Regions from separate parts of the Homo sapiens genome. Here region 2 is linked to region 1. The links come from fine-mapping of genetic effects on gene expression. A gene starts in region 1. The other region holds a variant in brackets. All regions are shown on one strand. Distances are from middle to middle. Region 1 holds the start of TP73 (tumor protein p73). Region 2 overlaps TP73 (tumor protein p73).

Region 1 (5,287 bases):
TTTTGGTGGGGACAAGATTTCACCATTTTGCCCAGGCTGGTCTTGAACTCCTGATCTCAAGTGATCCACCCACCTCGGCCTCCCAAAGGGCTGAGATTACAGGCGTGGGCCACGGCGCCTGGCCTTAAAGGATGTTTTGAAGACTTTTTCTGACTTTTTGCAAACACAGGGTTCACCGTGTACGCGATGTCACTTTGGTGTGCTCGGAATCTCAGGGTTAATACCGCCGCTGGGCAAGGGCAGGGCCTCGTCCGGGTTCTGGAGTGGGTGTGCGGCTCCTCTCTCGGCCCTCAGCCTCTTCTCTTCTCTCCACTTTAGCCGTGCCTTTCACACGTGCTCAGTGTTATCAATCCATTCTTGGACCTGGGTGGGGCATGCCCTATAAATAAATACTAAACCAGGCATCCTTGCCCCAGTGCATACTTCTGACAGATGCCATCAGCTTCCACCCACGCCTTGGGCAGATGCCTGCCTCACTGCCATCCCTCCTGCCCTGGAGATACCTACCAGATACTAAGGAGCCGGGTCTCTCCCCAGGGCTCCTGGCTCTCCCAGCTCTGGAACAGCACCTGGGACCCGAAGCCATCATGTGTGAGGACACTGAGTGGGTGCCAGGCACTCTCCCAAGCCCTTCGGACGGCACCTCACTGACTGTTCTCCAAGCCTCTGAGGCAGGAACTACTATTACCCGACTCTGCAGATGGGTAACCTGAGGCTCCAAGTGGTTAAGTGACTTGCTGGAGTAAATGGGGAAGAGGAGATTTGAACCCCAGCATTCTGACTTCCATACTACCCCATTAACCACTGTGCCAGACCAGCTTCTCCATGCGACTGGCCTTCGGGATTTGGAGACAGCTACTGTTCGCTGTAGCTTTCACGAGAAGGACTGCAAGGCAGGGCTCACATCCCGAGCCATTCTCTGGTGGCCGCCGCGCATAGACAAGCCCCGCTCAGGTCCGCCTTCCGTTCACCCCAGGCTACCTCTGATTGACAATAGGCAGCTGCCACACTGCAGCCTCTGACACCAACTTTTATCTTATTTCATCTTATTTTTTGAGACAGAGTCTTGCTCTGTTGCCCAGGCTGGAGTGCAGTGGCATGATATCAGCTCGCTGCAACCTCTCCATCCCAGGTTCAAGCAATTCTTGTGCCTCAGCCTCCCGAGTAGCTGGGAGTACAGGTGCCTGCCACCATGCCCAGCTAATTTTTGTATTTCAAGTAGAGACTGGGTTTCACCATGATGGCCAGGCTGGTCTCGAACTCCTGACCTCAGGTGATCCACCCACCTTGGCCTCCCAAAGGCTGTGAGGGATGACAGGCGTGAGCTACCGTGCCCAGCCAACTTTTTATCTTATTTTAAAAACTACATACGTAATGCATACATTCATATATGGCAACATTTCAAACACCGTGTCCTGTTCTTAATGAAATGCTTTTTAATCTTTCCCCGAATAAATCCAAAGAGGGGTGGCTCAGCGCTCAGTAAGTGCCAGAGGCCACGCGCTTTGTTTACTCCTCCCCCAGAGCTAAGGCTGAACAAATAAACAGCAATGACAGCAACAAAAAACAAAACAACAAAAACCAAAGCATTGTGTTAATGAGCCTGAGCCATTTCCAAATGTCCAGACAGTGAATAAACAGATGGCAGCATCTTTGGAAGCAAATGACCTCTGGTCAGAAGTTTGGGGTGCATTGCTTTTCCCTGCACCCTTGCTGGTTGAAGATCGTCTATCTGTCCCCTGTTTATGTAGCAGACGTGTGCATACTACATGGGCTTATCTCCTAGCGTCCAGGCCAAAATACAAGCTGAGCAAAGGTAATCATCGCTCCCCAAGTCCAAGCCCCGGGAAAGGCAGGGGCTGCAGGAGGAGGCGGCCCAGGAGCTAAGGGGGCGTGAGGTGTCTCCCTCCAGGCCGGCCCGGGCCATTTCTTCACGGGCTTTCTCTACCTGGGACCGCTCCGGAGACAGGCCAGGAGCCCTCGACAGACAAACTCAGAGCCACAGGGAGCTGTCCCTCGGGAAACCATCGAAACCGCTTAGTAACCAACTCCATGGGTCAAGGCCCCCGCCCAGATCCTTCTCCCTGTCCAGAGGGGGGCCTGGCCCTGGCTCCTCAGGGAAGCTGAGGCCTCGGGATTGGCACAGCCCTGCAGGTCGGAGGGAGCGCGCGGGCGGGGAGGAGCTTGCTGGCGATTTCCACCTGCACCCGCGCCCCGCACCCCGGCCTCTTCCCGGGGTTACCCTCCCAACGGCCCTCGGAGCCCGGGGTGGAGAGGGGACAGCAGGAGGAGGGCCCTCCCGGAACCCCTGCGGGGCTGTCTTTGGCGCCAAAGGCGGCCGGCGCTGAGGGCAGGACCCGCGTCTCCTCGCAGGCTAGACTCTGGCCGCTCCAGCCTCTCGCGAGCGCCAAGTCCCAGGGGCCGATCCAACTCCGAGGGAGCCCCTGTGTCGCCTTGTCCCAGCTCGTCCCCGATCGCTCTCCCCTCACCTCCCAGCTTCGGAGCTGCGAGCCCAGGTGCCTGCCCAGCGCTGCGCTCCAGCCCCCGCCCGCGGAGCCGAACCGCCCCCCGGCCCTGGGCCTCCTACCTGCAGCCGTCGCAGCCCCGGGCATCGGCGTCCGTCCCGGCTGGCCTGGCGCGGGCCCCGGTTTCGCTGCGTCCCCTTCGCGGGCGCGCGAGCCTCCGGGCGGGTGCGCGGGCGGGGAGGCAGGGCGGGCTGCCCGGCCCCTAGGCGGGTTATATGGGCGCGGGGAGGGGAGGCGCCGCGGGGAGTAGGCGGCCGCGGGCGTTAGCGCCTTTTTAGCCCGGCGCGCGGGAAGGCAGCGCGGGCCACCGAGTCGCGGCGGGGCCAAGGTCTCCTCCCGGCGCTCCGCCTCTCCAGCTGGCCGCGTCCAAGTCGGGGTCCCGGGCGCGCTCTGCCCCGCCTCCTTCCCGCCGCCTTTTGGCGCGCGTCGCTCCTGCAGAGCCCGGCGAGGCCGCCCACGCAGGGCCGAAGCAGGTCCGGCGCCAGGGCCCCTCCCGCGGGCCAGACCCGACCGCGATCTTCGGCAGAGCTGGGGACGCCGGTGCCGACTCTGTGCCCGACGCCTGCGTTTCCCCCGGACTCCCTGCTGTCCCCCAGACGGCCCATCTTTCCTGACACCCGGGTCTCTCCTGGCCGCCGCCACTAGCGCTGGGCTCCTCGGCGCGCGGGGCGCTTGGAATCCAAGGGGCAGGGGATGTGGCCGGCGGGGAACAGGGGTGAGGGGCGGGGAACAGGGGTGAGGGGCGCCGCCCCAGGCCCAGGAGGAGGGGAACGGCTGCTTTCCGCCAAGCAGGGCTTGCCACCCACTTCTCCTGTGGAGCCACGGTCCCGCCCGGCAGAGGATCCCGCGGAGAGCCTCTGGGGGCTGCTCTCCCAACCCCAGCCGGAGTTTGGGCCCCACGTCCTTCCAGGGGTCACCCAGGACGCGAACACTCCCGGGCGGCGGCCAGCACCCTGCTCCCTCCCCCGGCCGCCGCCTGTGGGCTCGGGCTCTGGATCCCGTTCGGTGTTTGGAAGGAGCTCGCGGGCGTCGGTGCGCTTGGAGTTGTTCTCTGCGCGCACCAGACCTGCGCTAGGTCAGGCCGAAGCTCTCTACCGGCCAGCGACACCCGCCGCCCCGCCCGCCTGCTCCTCCTAGGCCATCGGGGCTTCCAGGGCCCTCGACCACGTACACCAGGCCCTGGCTAGGGGACCCGACATGCTGGGCGAGTTCCGAGCGGCTCTCAGTGGCGGCGCTGCTTATGGTCTGATGCTTATGGGGCCCGTGATCTGGCTCCGAACCGATGTCCTCTGCCCATGGTGACCCCCACGTCTTGGAAAGTCGCGTCAGTGAAGCCCGTGGCTTCGCGAGCGAGCCGGGCTGGCGCAGACTGGGTTCTCTGGCCGCAGCGGGTCCGCGCCTGACGGGGAGGGTCCGGCTGACTCGCACATCTTCATGGCTCACCCACTGTTTGCTGGGCGCACGGGGTGGGGACCCAAAGACGAATCCCATGCAGAGGTTTGGGTCTAGTTTTGGCAACAGAAAAGGCCGGCACCGCCGGAGTAGGACGCGCGCGCACCACCATCCATTCGGCCGGGGAGGTTGGGGCGTCCGCGGGGAGCAGACCCGAGGCTGGGCGCCCGGAGGTACGAGCAGGACCCTGGCCGGCTCTCAGCTCCCAGAACCCAGGGCCAGGCGGGGATGTCAGGGTCTGCGCGATCTGGGGGGCCCTAGAGGCGCCGGCGGGGCCTGGCGCGGACTACTAGCGGCCTGCGGGAGCCAGGGGTGGAGGGGGCCGCTGTCTAGGGAAGAGGACCGGGGTCCGGAGTGGGGGTGAGAACGAGGCACGCCCCTGAGCCTGCGAAACCTGCGGACCGAGCGCCCGCGCAGGAGCTCGCTCCCTCTGGGCCCCCAGGTCCCAGACCCGCACGATTCTTCGCCCGGTGCCAGCCCAGATGCGCGCGGGTGATGAACGGGCGGTGGCCGCGATCCACGCGCTCGCTCTGCCCAGTCAGCGGCAAATTCGTTCTCTCCTTGATCTCAGTGGCACTGGAGCGTGAGGCAAGGGCCAGGCGGCAGGTAGAGGGGTCGGACTCAGCAAAAGCAAACAAAACCCCAAGCAAACGAAATAAATACTTATACATTACATACACGATATAATATATGTGCGACAGACACCGTATTACTTATTAAAGATATATTTGTAGGTAAACATATATTTACATGTAAACATACATTTACATATAAATATAAATATATATATATGCATGTGTACACACACGCAGACACACAGGTCGCTCAATTAAATTTGAATTTCAGACTAGCGAGTAATTTTTCCGTATTAGCATGTCCCGTGCAATATTTGGGAACATACTTATAACTAGATTTGTTGTGAATCTGAAATTCAAATTTTACTGTGCTTTCTACATTTTTATCAGCAGCCCTAGCTGGAGGTGCTCAAAGGCCTCCCGGCCTTTGAGGTAAGGTTCTCGGGTCGGAAATCCCTGGTCGGAAGAAACGTGGGCGTTTCCTTTAAAGCCCTGCGGCACAAGAACTACAAGCCCCACAATGCCGCGCGGAAGCCGGCGGCGCTGATAGGCTGCAGTTCACTTCCGCCTTCTGACTTCCGGCCTCGGAGGCCGGCGTCGGCTGTTGCAGCCTGCTGCGCGCCCAGGGGTCCCGCGGGTTTTCGGGCGCAGGGTGGCGCCCGCGGCAGGCGGCGGCCATGAACTTCTCCGAGGTATTCAAGCTCTCCAGCTTACTCTGCAAGTTCTCCCCGGACG
Region 2 (5,358 bases), 25 kb before region 1:
TGCACATAGCCCAGACGCCCATCAGCAGAGGGCCGGGCACAGGAGATGTGGTGCCAGCAAGCAATGGAACATTACGCGGCCATGAAAAGGAACGAAGCTCTGACATGCTACAGCGTGGGTGAGACCTGAAAACCTCATGCTCAGGACACATGACCTCATCTGTCAGCCTGTGAGCTGTCCCCTCCCAAGGCTAAGGTGGGACAAAGACAGAGAGAGACAGAGACAGAGAGACAGAGAGAAACAAGGACAAAGAGAGACAGAGACATAGAGACAGGGATAGAGACAGGAAGAGAGAGACAGAGAGAGAGAGACAAGGACAAAGAAAGAGAAAGACAGGAAGAGAGACAGAGAGACAGGGACAAAGAGAGAGACAAAGAGAGACAGAAAGAGACAGGGAAAGAGATAGAGAGAGACAGGAAGAGAGACAGAGAGACGGAGAGAGACAAAGGCAGAGAGAGACAGGGACAAAGAGAGACAGAGAGATACAAGGACAAAGAGAGACAGAGACAGAGACAGAGAGACAGGGACAAAGAGAGACAAAACAGAGAGACAAGGACAAAGAGAGACGGAGAGAGACAAAGGCAGAGAGAGACAGGGACAAAGAGAGACGGAGAGAGACAAAGGCAGAGAGAGACAGGGACAAAGAGAGACAGAGAGATACAAGGACAAAGAGAGAGAGAGACAGAGACAGAGAGACAGGGACAAAGAGAGACAAAACAGAGAGACAAGGACAAAGAGAGACAGAGAGTGAGAGAGACAGAGACAGGGAGAGACAAGGACAAAGAGAGACAGAGAGATGGAGAGAGACAGAGACAGAGAGACAGGGAGAGAGACAGAGAGAGATGGAGAGAGACAGGGAGACAGAGACAGACAGAGACAGACAGAGAAACAGAGGGAAAGAGAGAGGGACAGGGAGACAGACAGCGTGGGAGCCGACGGCATCCCGCCGCACCCCTACTGGAGGTCCAGGGGTTCCGTGAACAGGTGTGCACGGGGCATCCCTCCGCGCAGGGCTCAGGGCTCACAGGAACTGGTCGGCAAAACATGATTTGTGATCTTATGCCTGGGACATGGGCGTTGGCTGTATTTTCAAGTCGGCATCCTGTGAACTCCCCCTGAAGCGACACCCTCTCTTCCCACTGAACCCTGAATGAGGAACAGCGACCCTTCTTGTCAGCGCGCCTCTGCCTGCCGGAGACCCAGCTTCCACATCCCCTGACCGGCACCCACTGTGCACTGCAGGACACCAGCTTGGCCTCTCATCCCTGCCTGGGCACAGGACAGAGGCCAGCGAGCGTGGTCGTGGGTCCCCGATCCCACCCGTCCGGCCCTCCAGGCTCACAGGACAGGCCACCACCAGGAGCATGTGGGGTGGGAAAGGGGCTTCCTCCACGCCAGGAGTTGGGTCCCCAAACATCCCCAGGCCTGTTTGCCTGAGATGTGGGCAGTGGGCCTCCAGGTGCAGGCGTGTGGACCAGCCGGAAGCCCTGGGCAGATGCATCTTCCAGGACACCCCTCCCCACAGTGGGGCTGGGGCAGGGCCCAGGAATCTGCCCCTTTAACAAGCCTCCAGGGGAGTCATGAAGAGCCTGGGACAGGCCCCCTGAGGAGGACACTGTCATGAGGGCCAGCCTTGCCACTGCTCGGGGCCCTGCTGCAGCCACCGGCCTCCCCCATGGGAATCGGGTTCCTCATTAGCCAAAACCAGGACCCGGAAACCTGCCCAGACTTAAAGCACACGGAGGAACTTGAACCGGAAGCCACGAGATGCCTGATTCCCAACTTCCTGGGAAAACGCCAACGCTGGTAGCATTGGTCCCAGGGCCCCACAGGAACACTGCTCACAGGCACAGGCGCCAGGCAGGGGCTCCCCCAACCGGCCTCACACACCTGAGCTGATGACTGGCTCCGCAGGCATCTGGGAGTACTGGGCATGAGGAACAGGAAGCTCTGTTGGGGGTGCAGGGACGCTGCGCTGGGGCAGGGGGAGTATGTGCCCTCTGCCCACAGCCGCCTTTCAGGCAAGGATCCCAGTGGCGAGAAAAATAAGTCAATTCTAATAAAATGGCCTTTCAATTAAATCCAATTTTCCCAACCATTTGCCTTTTAATTTGAAAATTCGTTCACAAGGGGATCACGGTTCTGGGACAAAACAGAAATTGCTTTTGAAACGTTGCCAATAGTTTTAAAAATCATGTGTATCAATGGGGAAAGGAGACCAATTTCATAAGACATCTTTAGGAAGTTTTATCAACATCATAAAATGCAAATACATTATTGGAAGTGTAGGTTTTTCTAAGAAGATTTAGTCTAGGAGGGATGGGCTGGGTGCAGTGGTTCATAACTGTAATCCCAACACTTTAGGAGGCCAAGGAGGGAGGATTACTTGAGCCCAAGGGCTTGAGACCAGCCTGGGCAACACAGGGAGACCTCAGCTCTCCAAAAACTTAAAAAAATATTAGCTGGGCATGAGGGCGTGATGGCATGTGCCTGCAGTCCAAACCACGCAGGGTGCTGAGGTGGGAGAATCACTTGAGCCCAGGGGCTCGAGGCTGCAGTGAGCCATGATTGCACCACTGCACTCCAGTCTGGGCAACAGAGCTAGACCACAACTCTAAAAAAAAAAAAAAAAAAAAGGGAAGGAAGGAAATGAAATAAATGAGTTCTCAGTTGTAACAGGGGCGTCCAGTGTGTATTACCACAGGTCTTGCAGTGGAAGGCTTTGTGTGGCCACAGCATTTGGGGGTGGTCATTGGGGAGCTGCTGGCCGGCACCCCCC[CA/A]GCCCTGGCACCATCAAGTCAGGGCACAGAGTTGCAAAGGACAGTTGTGCTGGGTGTTCCTGGTTACGCTGTAGCCAGGCTGTAGGCTGCTGGCACACCCAGGAAGCAGGGCACCTCGACCCTGCCCCAACTTCCATGAGGCCTCAGACAAGTCCCCTCCCTTTGCCAGGCTGGAAAGGTGACCAGCGTTCCAAGTCCTACAGTGCCCACAGCAGTGGGAGCAGGACAAAGACCAGCCACCGAGGGCCCTCCGGCAAACCCAGACCTCAGCCTGCTTGGATCCTCAACTCCAGGGGCCGCTGTACCAGCTGCACCACAGGGAGAGCCCCCACACACGTGTGACTCAGAACAGGAAAGGAACTCACACCAGCAATTAGGCCCCCACAGCTTCCCCGGGACCCACGGAGCACAGGTGGGCTGGGGAGGGGACTGTGTGGCCCAGAAAACCAGCCTGCCCAAGCTCCCTGGAGCTGAAAACAAGGCTCTCTGATGACTTCTCGGTTTGACTCAGGGCCTTCTGAGGTCTCAGCCTAGGGGTTCTCACCAGGGGCAGTTCCACCCCCAGAGGATATTCCCATGTGGGGACATTTTCCACGGGGTCAGAGGGTGCTGTGGAATCTAGTGTGCAAGACAGGGATGCTGCTTAGCACCCTACGTTGCTCAGGGCAGCTGCCCACAGCAGAACGCACGCCCAGCTGTCGGGGCCGTGGCGGAGAGGGGGTGCTGTGCCATGGCTCCGAGCTGAGGCTGGCCAGGCACTTTGCAGGGCCTCAGGCTCACACGCCAACCCTGCCCCAGTTCAGAGATGAGCAAGTGGAGGCCAGGAGGCCCAGTGGCTGGCCCAAAGCTACTGAGGGCTGAGGAGCTGGGACTCCAGCCAAGCCCAGGTCCTCTGATGGCCTGGCCGCACCCGAATGCTCCCCTCTGCCCTGTGGGGAGGAGTCCGCAGCCGGTGAGGGGCTCTCAGCCTCTCTCATCTCACCCTGCCCAACCCCTCTGGCCTCGTCTTCCATAGCTTCCCACGAAAGCCACAGCCCCCTGTCCCCCTGCCCTGTCCCAAGCATTCCCTCCCTGTCCCCAAGCATCCCCTCCCTGTCCCCTGTTCCTCTGTCCTCTCCCTGTCCCCCTGTCTCCCTGTCCCCCATAGGTTCCTTCCCTGTCCCCTTTCCCTTTGTCCCCTAGCCCCCCATCTTCTATCCCCTCCCTGTCTGCATCCCTCTGTCCCCTCCCCATCTCCTGTTTCTCTGTCCCCTCCCTGTCCCTTGTCCCCATAGATCCCTGCCCTATCCCCATGGGTCCCCTCCCTGTTCCCTGTCCCTTTGACCTCTCCTTCTCCCATCCTCTGTCCCCGTCCTAGCTCCTGTTTCTGTGTCCCCTCCCTGTCCCCGTCCTCCTGTCCCCTCCTTGTCCCCCATCCTCTGTCCCTCCCCGTCTCCTGTCCCTCTGTCCTCTCCCTATCTCTTGTCCCCATGGGTGCCCTCCTTGTCCCCTGTCCCCAGTCCCCACATGCCTGGCTATGTGCTCTCTGTGTTCAGCCTTTGTCTACCACCCCCTTCCTGCCCTCCCATCTCATCCCTATCTCTCCAGGCCAGGCCAGGACCCAGCCTCCTCTAGGAACCCCGTCTCCGGCTGACGCCCCATCCTCTCCCCTCACCACCTGACAGGAGGTGGGAGACCAGACATTTCCTTGGCCATGGGCCCACAGGTAAGGCCTCGTCAGTTCCCCAACCCCTTCCACCTCTGCCCAGGCCTGGGGCAGACAGGGCTCCACAACCACCTTTGATAAGCCAGGACACTCCACCCCGACTGAGCCCACTCTGGAAGAGGCACTCCCCATGGGGACACCCACTCCCACCTGCAGGGGCCCTGGCCGCAGGGCTGCTGTTACCTACCCACCCCTCGGTGGAGCTCTGAGACCGAGCCGTCCGCACTCAGCCTGGGCAGGAGACACAGGCCCCTCTGCCCCGTCTGGCCCAGCCATCCCGGACACTGGCTCTTAAGGGGGATCACAGGAGGGGTGCAGGGTGTCCTCCTCCATTCAGGGAGGAGGGAAAAGCCCCCAGGAACTCCACCCGCCCCGGGCCACCCCTAAAGCAAACATCTCAATGCACTTCTGATTCCGGTGGTTCCCAAACCACCAATGATTTTACCTGTTATTTCAGCAGATCAACGATTCCAATCTGAAGTGGCAAAGAAACCTGGGGCCATTGTGGGAGGAGACACCTGGGCCATTGTGGGAGGAGACACCTGGGCCATTGTGGGAGGAGACACCTGGGCCATTGTGGGAGGAGACACCTGGGCCATTGTGGGAGGAGACACCTGGGCCATTGTGGGAGGAGACACCTGGGCCATTGTGGGAGGAGACACCTGGGCCATTGTGGGAGGAGACACCTGGGCCATTGTGGGAGGAGACACCTGGGCCATTGTGGGAGGAGACACCTGGGCCATTGTGGGAGGAGACACCTGGGCCATTGTGGGAGGAGACACCTGGGCCATTGTGGGAGGAGACACCTGGGCCATTGTGGGAGGAGACACCTGGGCCATTGTGGGAGGAGACCGTCTCAATCCCCTTGTGCCC

What was found. PIP is the estimated chance that this variant, and not a neighbour inherited with it, causes the effect.
Region 2: its variant is fine-mapped to the expression of TP73 in whole blood (TOPMed, PIP 0.97).

What each region holds. Positions count from the first base shown.
Region 1 is chr1:3,649,942-3,655,228 of GRCh38, reverse strand. It overlaps TP73 (tumor protein p73), which reads right to left and starts at 2,713. Exons shown (of 14, transcript NM_005427.4): 1 at 2,588-2,713. WRAP73 (WD repeat containing, antisense to TP73) reads left to right here and starts at 5,126. Exons shown (of 12, transcript NM_017818.4): 1 at 5,126-5,287. The coding sequence starts at 5,230. RefSeq lists a silencer at 2,153-3,102 and an enhancer at 4,062-4,905.
Region 2 is chr1:3,674,969-3,680,326 of GRCh38, reverse strand. The region is part of intron 1 of TP73 (tumor protein p73); the gene reads right to left. Among named protein-coding and RNA genes, the nearest start is that of TP73-AS3, 8.7 kb to the right of the region's middle. RefSeq lists a silencer at 1-95. The variant CA/A (reference allele first, on the strand shown) is at 2,780.